Regions from separate parts of the Homo sapiens genome. Here region 2 is linked to region 1. A link means that fine-mapping ties the variant in region 1 to the expression of a gene that starts in the linked region. Tissue or cell type: whole blood. Region 1 holds a variant in brackets; the other region holds the start of a gene. All regions are shown on one strand. Distances are between the middles of the regions.

The links. PIP is the estimated chance that this variant, and not a neighbour inherited with it, causes the effect.
Region 2: it holds the start of EXOSC10, and the variant in region 1 is fine-mapped to the expression of EXOSC10 in whole blood (TOPMed, PIP above 0.99).

Annotation. Positions count from the first base shown.
Region 1 is chr1:11,075,407-11,081,267 of GRCh38, forward strand. EXOSC10 (exosome component 10) reads right to left here. Exons shown (of 25, transcript NM_001001998.3): 11 at 5,676-5,832; 12 at 5,358-5,506; 13 at 5,093-5,143; 14 at 4,305-4,416; 15 at 2,195-2,245; 16 at 1,959-2,037; 17 at 1,436-1,542. Among named protein-coding and RNA genes, the nearest start is that of SRM, 18 kb to the left of the region's middle. The variant T/C (reference allele first, on the strand shown) is at 2,166.
Region 2 is chr1:11,096,508-11,102,368 of GRCh38, forward strand. EXOSC10 (exosome component 10) reads right to left here and starts at 3,362. Exons shown (of 25, transcript NM_001001998.3): 1 at 3,214-3,362; 2 at 1,513-1,649. The coding sequence starts at 3,324. EXOSC10-AS1 (EXOSC10 antisense RNA 1) reads left to right here and starts at 3,168. Exons shown (of 2, transcript NR_135062.1): 1 at 3,168-3,307; 2 at 5,294-5,598. RefSeq lists enhancers at 2,528-3,090, 2,742-2,801, 3,091-3,651 and a silencer at 2,703-2,904.

The DNA.
Region 1 (5,861 bases):
TCCTTTTGCTTCATCTGTAATTATGCGCCCTTGCAACACAAGAGTGCAGGGAGACCACAGCCTCCTTTACACCAAACAGCACTTCCGTATCAAAGCAGCCCAGAGCTCATGCTAACACGCTTAGCTGCTAAATCATCTTCATGACTCAAATTAGCTCTGAGGTCAGCTAAAGCGCCTAGTATTTTCTCATTAATTGCTAAAGCAAGGCCCAATCTAGATTTATGTAATTAAGTTAAAAACCAAAGTGAAGCCTGGGCGACATGGTGAAACCCCACCTCTACAAAACATACAAAAATTGGCTGGGCATGGTGGCATACACCTGTAGTCCCAGCTACTCGAGAGAAGGCTGGGGCAGAGGGATTGCTTGAGCCCAGGAGGCAGAGGTTGCAGTGAGCCAGGATGGTGCCACTGCACTCCCACCTGGGTGACAGGATGAGATCCTGTCACAAAAAAAAAAAAAAAAAAAAAAAAAAAAAATGCCGGGTGTGGTGGCTCATGCCTGTAATCCCAGCACTTTGGGAGGCTTAGGTGGGTGGATCGCCTGAGGTCAGGCATTCGAGACCAGCCTGGCCAACATAGTGGCCCCATCTCTATTAAAAATATAAAATATTAGCTAAGTATGGTGGCGGGCGCCTGCAATCCCAGCTACTAGGGAAGCTGAGGCAGGAGAATCGCTTGAACCTGGGAGGTGGAGGTTGCAGTGAGCCGAGATGATGCCACTGCACTCCAGCCTGTGCAACAAGAGCGAAACTCCATCTCAAAAAACCAAACCAAACAAACAAAAAAAGTGAAATAGCTGGGCACAGTGACTCATGCCTGTAATCCCAGCTACTCAGGAGGCTGAGGCAGGAGGATCGTTTGAGCCTCAGAAGTCAAGGCTGCAGTGAGCCATGATTGTGCCACTGCATTCCAGCCTTGGTGGCAGAACAAGATTGTCTCAAAAAAAAAAAAAATCATTTCTCTTCTTCACTGAAAGCACACATATGTGGTGCTGGGGTCAGGCAGGAAGCTATGGGCAGCGCACATTCTACAGTTCATCGGACAGTACACCCATGCCACCCCTGCTGGGCATCCAGGTGAACCGTTTTTCCTCCACCACCACTGCAGCTTGTCTGGAAAGCCCTGCTTGTATGTTCTCTTAGCGCAGGCCCTCCTCCCACTAGGTGCTGTTCAACAACAGGACGTCAGCCTTTCCTGGAAGATTTCTTCACACAGAGCTCAAGAGAATCCCCCATCCACGTCCCCAGACCACCTCCTCCAGAGTGGTCAGTGCCACCTTGCTCATTGGTCTCTATGCCTCTCCCAGCACTGCTGGGTTTTGCTCTCAGCATTAGTCTCCGAGTGTATGCAATGCTCCAGGCAGACAGCCTGCTGAATAAATCCAGTAAATCCCAGGGGGTCCTCATCACCTCAGTGAAGTTTCTGTGCTACTCACATTAAATAACGTGATGACAGCTGTGGCAATCAGGCATGTGGTACCCAGCAAGTTATCTTCTTTTTCATCAGGGAAGAGGCTCGCCTGCTTCTGAACTGGCACAGATCCTAGAGGAGCAGAAGATAGTAAGGTCAAAGCCTACAGAATTTTGTTTATTTTTTCTTTTTGAGATGGAGTTTTAGTGTAGTCCCCTAGGCTGGAGTACAATGGCACAATCTCGGCTCACTGCAACCTCCGCCTCCTCGGTTCAAGTGATTCTCCTGCCTCTGCCTCCTAAGTAGCTAAGATTACAGGTGCCCACCACCATGCCAGCTAATTTTTGTATTTTTAGTAGAGATGGGGTTTCACCATGTTGGCCAGGCTGGTCTCAAACTCCTGACCTCAGGTGATCTACCCGCCTCAGCCTTCCAATATGCTGGCATTACAGGCATAAGCCACCACGCCCGGCCAAGCCTACAGAATTTTAGACAAGGTAGCTGTGTCCCAACCTCTTCGGGACAGTCAGGAGGGCTCTCGACTTTACCACTGGTTGGGATGATTGGATAGCCATCCGGAGGGGCATGGGAGCAGTCGTGAGGTCCAAAGAGAACATTCTCCAATCTCTGCATTAAAAGACACCAGCAGGCTGGCATGTAAAACGTGCAAGCCGGCAGTAGCTTTCTGCCAGCTGTCAGCACAGGCCTCTGTCAGAGGTGTACTTGCACTGGCTGTGACTTGACGTTTTCCCTCC[T/C]GGGGGAGAAAACAGATCCGACACTCTACCTCAGCACTGGGCAGCGGTCCGCTCTTCTTCACTCCGGCTGCAACTTCAGACTAAGGAAAAAAACGAAGGGAATTGAGGAAAGTTGCCCAAGCACCTCAAGTCCAACCCCCAGTCTCCAGCGCTGACTGTATTCCTTCACCAGCCTGTTTCTCAAAAGCCCAGAGATTTTCTTTCCTCTCTTCACTCCTTACAGTGCCTGGCATGATAATTATTTGGTGCTCAATAATTATTTGTAGAATGAAAGAATAAAGCTCTTTAACATGACTAAGCACAATAGGAAGGATTCCAAAGAGCTTGAAAAAGACTCTTCTCTAGTAATCAAGGTCTCTCTTTACTTGGACAAAGTACAGAGCTTACAAAGACATTTTTAACACAAAAATTGCAAATGTGGGGCTGGCAGGTGGCTCACAACTGTAATTCCAGTACTTTGGGAGGCTGAGGTGGGAGGACTGCTTGAGCCCACGGGTTCAAGACCAGTCTGGGAAACACAGCAAGACCCATCTCTACAAAAAATTAAAAAAAACATAGCTGGGTATGGTGGTGTATGCCTGTGGTCCCAGCTGCTCAGGAGGCTAAGGTGGGAGCCTAGCAGATGCGAGGCTACAGTGAGCCATGATTGCACCACTGCACTCCAGCCTGGGTGTCAGAGCAAGACCCTGTTTCTTTTTTTTTTTGAGACGGAGTCTCGCTCTGTCGCCCAGACTGGAGTGCAGTGGCGGGATCTCGGCTCACTGCAAGCTCCGCCTCCCGGGTTCACGCCATTCTCCTGCCTCAGCCTCCCAAGTAGCTGGGACTACAGGCGCCCGCCACTACGCCTGGCTAATTTTTTGTATTTTTAGTAGAGACGGGGTTTCACCGTTTTAGCCGGGATGGTCTCGATCTCCTGACCTCGTGATCCGCCCGCCTCGGCCTCCCAAAGTGCTGGGATTACAGGCGTGAGCCACCGCGCCCGGCTGACCCTGTTTCAAAACAACAACAACAACAAAAAAAACAAAAGAAAACTGGCTGCCATTGTCAGCATTTGCTACGAAGTCTCATCAATCTTTTCTTCTGATGCTTCCTACACCTGTTCTTTCCTTCTCAGTGTGTGATTCCTCACTCATTCAGGGAGCTATCACTTCACATCTGGGCCATCGCCAGGCTCCCAAAACTAGCTCCCTCTGCTGAGGTCACCGCTCCATCTCACTCCACCACATTAACTGCCTTAGAACAGTGAATTGGCCCAGTTACCAGACAGTACTTGCTGCTGAATCATCAAAGCTAAGGTCATAAATAAAGAGTCTTAGCTCTCAACTATCATAAAAAAAAGCAGCTAAATTCATCAAGACACACACACTGGATTTCCTAAGCCCTATTATTTCCCTAGGGTTGTTTAGAATGCAGACCAGCTCATGAATCTAGGAAGCCACAAGGAATAAGACACTAGCAGAAAAAACAGGCCTGCTAAAGTTGGGCATGATGGCTCACGCCTGTAATCCCAGCACTTTGGGAGGCCCAGGTGGTGGATCACCTGAGGTCAGGAGTTCGAGACCAGCCTGGCCAACATGGTGAAACCCCGCCTCTACTAAAAATACAAAATTAGCCAGGCGTGGTGGTGCATGCCTGTAATCCCAGCGACTCAGGAGGTTGAGTCAGGAGAACTGCTTGAATCCAGGAGGCGGAGGTTGCAGTGAGCCGAGATCATGCCACTGCACTCCAGCCTGGAGACAGAGCGAGACTCCGTCTAAAAAAAACAAAAAACAAACAAACAAAAAAAAAACAGGCTTGCTAAGTTGGGACCCTTCAGTAGAAAATCTTTTTTTTTTTTTTTGAGACGGAGTCTCGCTCTGCCTCCCAGGCTAGAGTGCAGTGGCGCGATCTCGGCTCACTGCAACCTCCGCCTCCCGGATTCAAGCAATTCTCCTGCCTCAGCCTCCGGAGTAGCTGGGATTACAGGCGTGCACCACACGCCTGGCTAATTTTTTGTATTTTTAGTAGAGACGGGGTTTCACCATGTTGGCCAGGCTGGTCTCGAACTCCTGACCTGAAATGATCCAGCCACCTCAGCCTCCCAAAGTGCTGAGATTATAGGCGTGAGCCACTGTGCCCAGCCGCAGAAAAGCTTCTTACCTTGAGCAGGGGCATCTCTCGGGCCTGCTGGATTAAAAGGTGCATTTCGTTGATCTGCTGCCGCACAAGGGGCGGTACTGGGTTGCAGCAAGCTATGATGCCCTGAGGTTCCCTGAAGACAAGTAAGAACACACTCAACTTGTCACTCAGAAACGCAGCCCTTAAAGGCTTCCAGATAAGAATAATGACTGGGTAAAGCCAGGCTGCCACCTAAGCTGAAGCTACAGGTAGGTGACTAAGGAAACACTGATGTCAGGCCAGCCTAGGCCAACTTCTCCATGTGTTCTTTGCGACACCAAGCTTTAAGTGGATCCCTCTTGGAGCCTGACTCCCACAATCAGGGAGAGCTGAAAGTAAGTGCCATAGCACTGTGGATTCTCAATTCCGCAGGGGGCAACCAACGGGCTGTGGATTTTCATTCTTGCTTATACTTCAATCAAGATCACAAAACGTTTAAGATCATGAGCTGCTTTAATTTGGAAGAAAGTACAGATGACAGAATCTGGGACATTTTCTTCCCTTGCAAGTAGATGCTATAAGGCTCAGAGACTTAAAATAAACTCAAACTAAGGCATAATCATTGAAATGATTCCAGTTCAGAAGTTTTAGTGCTTAAATGGCAGCCTGAGGGCAGAAATTCTATATTCCTTCAACTTGCTACCTTCCAAGCTTGGAGCATTAATCTCTGAGTAAGCAGCCTTGGGTAATAGCAACCAGAAAAGCTTGATTTTGAAGAACATCAGATCTACTGAGAAAGTCAGAACATATTAATCAGATTTGAAACTCACTTAGGCAGTTCTTCAGCTATTTTCAGCATCATGTGGTTTGGCAGTACATATCTGGAAAAAAAAAAACACACACACACACACACACACACACACACACACACACACACGGTGGGGACACATTACATTCAGCCAGTAAGTTCCATTAGATGCTGTCACATAGGGGAAATAACCAGCTTTCATAGCAAAAGAAAAAAGCCCATTATTTACTTGTTATTAGATCTCCTCAGTCTGGAAACAAGTATTAAAAGAACCTCTAATCCCTTACCCGTAACTTTCATCTTCCCTGCGAGCTGTTTTATCCCTCCAGGCAAACAGCAGCTGAAAGGCTGTCAACTGCTGTGTGTTAAGGTGCTTCTTCTGCTTCCTATAGAGTTCAAGGTAGGACTCATCCGTGAAGATAGGTTTGATGAATTTCTACAAAGTATTAGAGAACATTCAAAATCAACGGGAATCAAAATTGTGCCCTGGGCTCTGGAAAATGTTTGGCTCTTTTCATGAATGTAAGGAGCAAACCTAAGAACTAGAACCTGGCCAGACACAGAGCCCAAGTGTCGCGGTCTGTGTGACTGCGGCTGAGGTGTACCTTGAGGCAGATGTCCCTGCTCCGTTGCCACACCACCTGCAGCTGCACCGGCTGCCCGTTGCCGCGCTCCCACATCTCCAGCCTCATTTTGTCATAGATATATAGCAGGTAATGGGTGTCATCCCGGGCGTAGCTGAGCATCTCCTCGGGCAGAGGGCTGGAATTGCAGAGGACAATGTTTTACTG
Region 2 (5,861 bases), 21 kb after region 1:
GCTCTGTTACCCAGGCTGGAATGCAGCAGTACAATCACAGCTCCCTGTAGCCTTGAACTCCTGGGCTCAAGTGATACTCCCACCTCAGCCTCCCAAGTAGCTGTGACTTGGGAGTGGTGCACCACCACTCCCAGCTACTTTAAAAATTTTTTGTAGGGATGGAGTCTCCCTACGTTGCCCAGGCTGGTCTTGAACTCCTGGGCTCAAGCGATCCTTCTGCCTTTGCCTCCCAAAGCACTAGGATTACAGGCATGAGCCGCCATGTCTGGCCCCTGATACTTTTTGATGAAACCAATAAAACTTGCACCCTAGCTGGGCGCAGTGGCTCACACCTGTAATCCTAGCACTTCAGGAGTGGTCACGACTTCGAGACCAGCCTGGCCAACATGGTGAAACCCCATCTCTACTAAAAATACAAAAAACTGGCTAGGCGCAGTGGCTTATACCTGTAATCCCAACACTATGGGAGGCTGAGGTGGGTGGATCACAAGGTCAGGAGTTCGAGACCAGCCTGGCCAACATGGTGAAACCTCCTCTACTAAAAATACAAAAATTAGCCGGGAATGGTCGTACATGCCTGTTATCCCAGCTACTGGGGAGGCTGAGGCACAAGAATCGCTTGATCTTGGGAGGTGGAGGTTGCTGCGAGCCGAGATCACGCCACTGCACTTCAGCCTGGGCGACAGAGCAAGACTCCGTACTCCCCCCCAACAAAAAAAAAAAAGCTGGTCGTGGTGGTGTACACCTATAATCCCAGCTACTCGGGAGGCTGAGGCAGGAGAATCGCTTGAACCTGGGAGGCGCAGGTTGCAGTGAGCCGAGATTGAGCCAATGCACTCCAGCCTGGGTGATGGAGCGAGACTCCATCTCAAAAAAAATAAAAATAAAAATAAAAATACCTGCTACTCTACAAGTTGTGGGAAAGAATCTTGGATCTGGCAAGGCGCGGTGGCTCACGCCTGTAATCCCAGCACTTTGGGAGGCCGAGGCAGGTGGATCACGAGGTCAGGAGATCGAGACCATCCTGGCTAACATGTTGAAACCCTGTCTCTACTAAAAATACAAAAAATTAGCTGGGCGTGTTGACGGGCACCTGTAGTCCCAGCTACTCAGGAGGCTGAGGCAGGAGAATAGCGTGAACCTGGGAGGCGGAGCTTGCAGTGAGCCGAGATCATGCCACCGCACTCCAGCCTGGGCAATAGAGCGAGACTCCGTCTCAAAAAAAAAAAAGAATCTTGGCTCTAAGTGTTCACGTCCCATTTAATTAAAAAAGATTTGTACAAAAGTCAATATATTTTTTCAGTACAAAAGTCAATACATTTTTTAAAGGCTAAACTAAAAATATACCAAGTAATATTTCCCTAATCAAAATCCATTGCTTCAATTTTCACATTTTATAGCTCTTCATACCACAGAAAATGTTTAAGGAAAAATAAATTTCAGGAAAAATTTATCTACTTCTTTGTTTTCATTTCTTTTCACTAACACAAGAAAACAAAGTACAGTACTTACCACTGAAGCAACCTGTCTCCCTGTGTTTCGCAAAATGCTTGGAAGCCAGGAAAACTTCGGTAAAAATCATACTCATCGCCAAACTGTGGTAGGCCCCCAGATGCCTTGGTGACTGCCACCACGGACCCAAGAGCAAACTGTCAAAAACAAGAAAAGATGGCATGTTTACACAGGGATCCCCATTCATTTGGTATGTCATTTTTTTGATCTATCGTATACAAGGTATCTACTCTTCATCCATCAAAAAAAGCACTCATTTAGTGCCAAACCCCAATCTAATCTAGGCCCTGAGAATACAATACTGAACAGGAAACCAAGTTTGGAGCTTATATTCTTGGGAGAGTTGAGAGACAGAATACATACGTATATAATCTGATTAATATTCACAAATACCTGGGGTTGAATCTTGACTCTGCTACGTATTAACTGAGATCTTGGACAAGTGATTGCTTTATTTGGACTTTAGTGTTCTCCTCTGAGAAACAGGAAAAATAAAAAGGGCCTGCACCACAGAGTTTTTGTGAGGACAGAATGAATAAGCTAATAAAAGCACTTAGGACAGTTCTTGGCACATAAGCGTTATTATTACGACTCAAGTTCAGATCCAAGAGCTTTCTACAGGAATTTGTTTTTGTGTTTTCATCTGGATGAGCATCTAAAAACAATACAAGCTTATCCTAGATCCTTGGACGACAAATTTATAACAGCTACTATCTAAAACTGGATTTGTGTTTATTGTTCAGTTAGTGTCAAGTGGTTCTCTATTTTAACTGTTGTGAGGTAACGAAAAAAAGCCGTGAAGTGACATAAATGATGGCTGATCATGTGAAGGCCTAAAACGTCATTGTGAGTTTTGTGAATAAACATTTCCCAAGAAAAAAGCAGAGAAAGGAGGTGGGAAATTAAGTCACGGAGGGGAACATGGTAGCTTATGAGCATGACCGCCACACAACCAGGACCACAGTTAGTGGTCCAGGAACTATTGAGAGCCATGTTAATGAATCAATAGCATTAGCTAACAGCAAATTAGATAAGATACAACGTTAGTGGAATTTCTGTAAATTTATAGGGTTAATTTACAAATTATTTTAGTTTCATTGCTTTGTAAGAGCTATGCACACCTTAAGCCTAGTTGTACGTTTGCTCATATTTAAGCTAAGTTATACAAAGATCTTAAGTGAACGCCCTGTATACCTTCCAGGAGTTACTAATAAACGTGCAATGGGGCTTTAACAGGTGACATTTAACTCAGGGTTAAAAATTATGTAGGACTGGACTTCAGAAACAGAGGAAGAGAAGGGCCATACTGGCCGCGGGAGGAGACAACTCCAGGCAAGTGTGGGGAGCGCGAAGAAGCCGAGCCCCTGCGGAGAGCTGGTCGGGTGGCTAGGGCGTGGCGAGCGCGACGTCGCAAGGGCTAGGGACGTCTGGGTGGCAAGGAAGCCTTTCCCAGGATGCGAGACGGCTTTCCACATTTGGGCCTCCATGGACTTAGGCTCGCAAGCGGGACGCCCCTCAGTGTCCGTTTCCGAGGCCCCATCCCCGGAGGGTGCAGGAGAGTCTGCGCCCAGCGCGGACAGGGGCCCCGCGACCCTCGCTCGGGCTCCACTACGGCGGGCGGGCATTGGCTGCCCAGAGGGCCCAGTCGGCTTCCGGCGGCCGCGGGCGACTCCTGGTACCCCCGAGGCCCCGCGAACTCACCTTCACAAAGCTGTCGGCGTCCGGGAAGCCTGGCAGCACCATCTCTCCGTCGGATTTGGTTGCGCTGGTCGCCGACAGGACCCTGGGCTCCCGGGTACTGGGTGGCGCCATTTTTTCAGCCTGCACGGCTCGTCTCGCGAGAGCTTGTCGGCCGAGGAGACGGGACGCGTGCGCACCACGCATGCGCCAGGTCGAAGCGGCGGGCGGGGCGTCTGATTATAGTGTGGGGAGCCTGCGATTGGGGTGGGGCGCCTGCGATTAGGTTGGGAAGCCTGCGTTTAGGGTGGGGCACCTGCGATTAGGTTGGGAAGCCTGCGATTAGGTTGGGAAGCCTGCGATTAGGGTGGCACTTTCGAGCGCTCTGGTGTGAATTTCACGTTCTTTTACCTCATATTGTATCATCCCAACAACCCTGTGATCTAGGGTGCGGCCTGGAGGACCTGACTATCACATATATTTTTGACACGAGGTTTGCCCAATCTGGTTTCGAACTCTTGGGCTCAAGAGATCCTCCCACCTTAGCCTGCGAAGTAGCAGGGACCCCAGGCGAGGGCCACGATCCCCGCTTATCCTCGTGTTTATTTAAAAATTTAAAAAACAAACAAACCGGGATTACCGGGAGTGGTGGTGCGCATCTGTAGTCCCAGCTGCTCGGGAGGCTGAGGTGGGATGGTTGCTTGAGCCGAGGAGGTGGAGGCTCCACTGCACTCCAGCCGGGGTGACAGGATGAAACCCTGTCTCAAAAATTTCTTTTTAAGGTTATGTTTTTGAGGCTGGGCGCCGTGACTCACACCTGTAATCCCAGCACTTTAGGAGGCCGAGGCGGGTGGATCACCTGAGGTCGGGAGTTGGAGACCAGCCTGGCCAACATGGTGAAACTCTGTCTATACTAAAAACACAAAAATTAGTCGGGCGTGGTGGCACATGCCTGTAATCCCAGCTACTCGGGAGGCTGAGGCTTGAGCCCGGGAGGTGGAGGTTACAGTGAGCCGAGATCGAACCACTGCATTCCAGCCTGGGCAACAGAGTGAGACCTTGTCACAAACAAACAAAAAAAACCATGTTTTTGGGACAAAGTTTCACTCTTGCTCTCCCAAAGTGCTGGGATTACAGATACGAGTCATCAGCGTGCAGCCTATTTTTATTTTTATTTTTTTTGAGATGGAGTCTCACTCTGTTGCCCAGGCTGGAGTGCAGTGACGCAATCTTGGCTCACTGCAACCTCCCGCCTCCCGGGTTCAACGAATTCTCTTGCCTCAGCCTCCCGAGTAGCTGGGATTACAGGCGTGCACCACCACGCTCGGCTAATTTTTTTCGTATTTTTAGTAGAAACGGGGTTTCACCATATTGGCCAGGCTGGTCTCGAACTCCTCACCTTGTGATCCTCCCGCCTCGACCTCCCAGAGTGCTGGGATTACAGGCGGAGCCACCGTGCCTGCCCTGTTTATTTTTTTTTTTTGAGACAGAGTCTCACTCTGCTGCCCAGGCTGGAGTGCAGTGGTGCAATCTCAGCTCACTGCAACCTCCGCTTCCTAGGTTCAAGTAGCTGGGATTACAGGCGTGTGCCACAATGCCCGGCTAATTTTTTTTTTTTTTTTGTATTTTTAGTAGAGATGGGGTTTCACCATGTTGGCCAGGCTGGTCTTGAACTCCTGACCTCAAGTGATCCACCTGCTTTGGCCTCCCGAAGTGCTGGGATTACAGGTGTGCGCCACCAGCGCCTGGCTTATTTTTTTTAGACTGCATCTTACCAACCTGGTCTCGAACTCCTGGGCTGAAGCCGTCCTCCCACCTCACTGGGATTACAGGCAGGAACCACTGTGCCCGGCCCAGCCTCATATTTAAAGTCACCTCCTCCCAAGCTCTGGCTGGTTCTGTGTTCCCCTCACCCATTTGGTCTTGACTCCTGTAATTAATTACACCTCCCCTGCCCCCTGGATCTATCTTTTCCCTCTCTATTGGTTCATTCCTAACAGCCTACAAGTACACTGACATCTTTCCCAACTAAAAGAGAAAAGGAAAAAACACTGGCTCCCACATCTCCTTCCAACTGCCATCATCTCTCTCTTGCCCTTTACAGGTAAGCTCCTGAAGAAAGCGTCTAGCTCCAACTGTGCTTCCTCCCTCCAGTACCCTCTGAACTCCTCCAAGCAGACGTTGTTTCCTGCAGACATCGCTGGAACCATTCTGGTTAACACAGAGTGGGAACTCAGTACACATTTGTGAAGTGAACTCCTGGAAGAGCTCTTGTGAGGGAGGCACCGAATTATCAGGCAGCTCAAGAGATAGATTCACTCTCCTGAAATTAGAGATGGGATGCCCTTAATACAATTCATTCCACCCATTAAGTCTTCAATAAATGTTCAGCATATCCAGTTAAGAGAATACTTGCTTTTCACTTTTTCCGTGTGTGTGCTTCAGGTACACAGGTACTCTGGCAGGACAAACGCCTAGTTCATTTAGTATTTTTGAGGACCTATTTCACGTGGTTCAACCTAATACCACATGTCAGTCAGGCTGTGCTAAATGCTCCTCCATGGATTATCTTGTCTTTCAGACAGCCTCACAAGGTAGGGCTTACCCACACTTTCAGAGGAGACAAGCAGAGAGAATCTACGTAACTTATCCAAGGTCACAAAGGTACTATG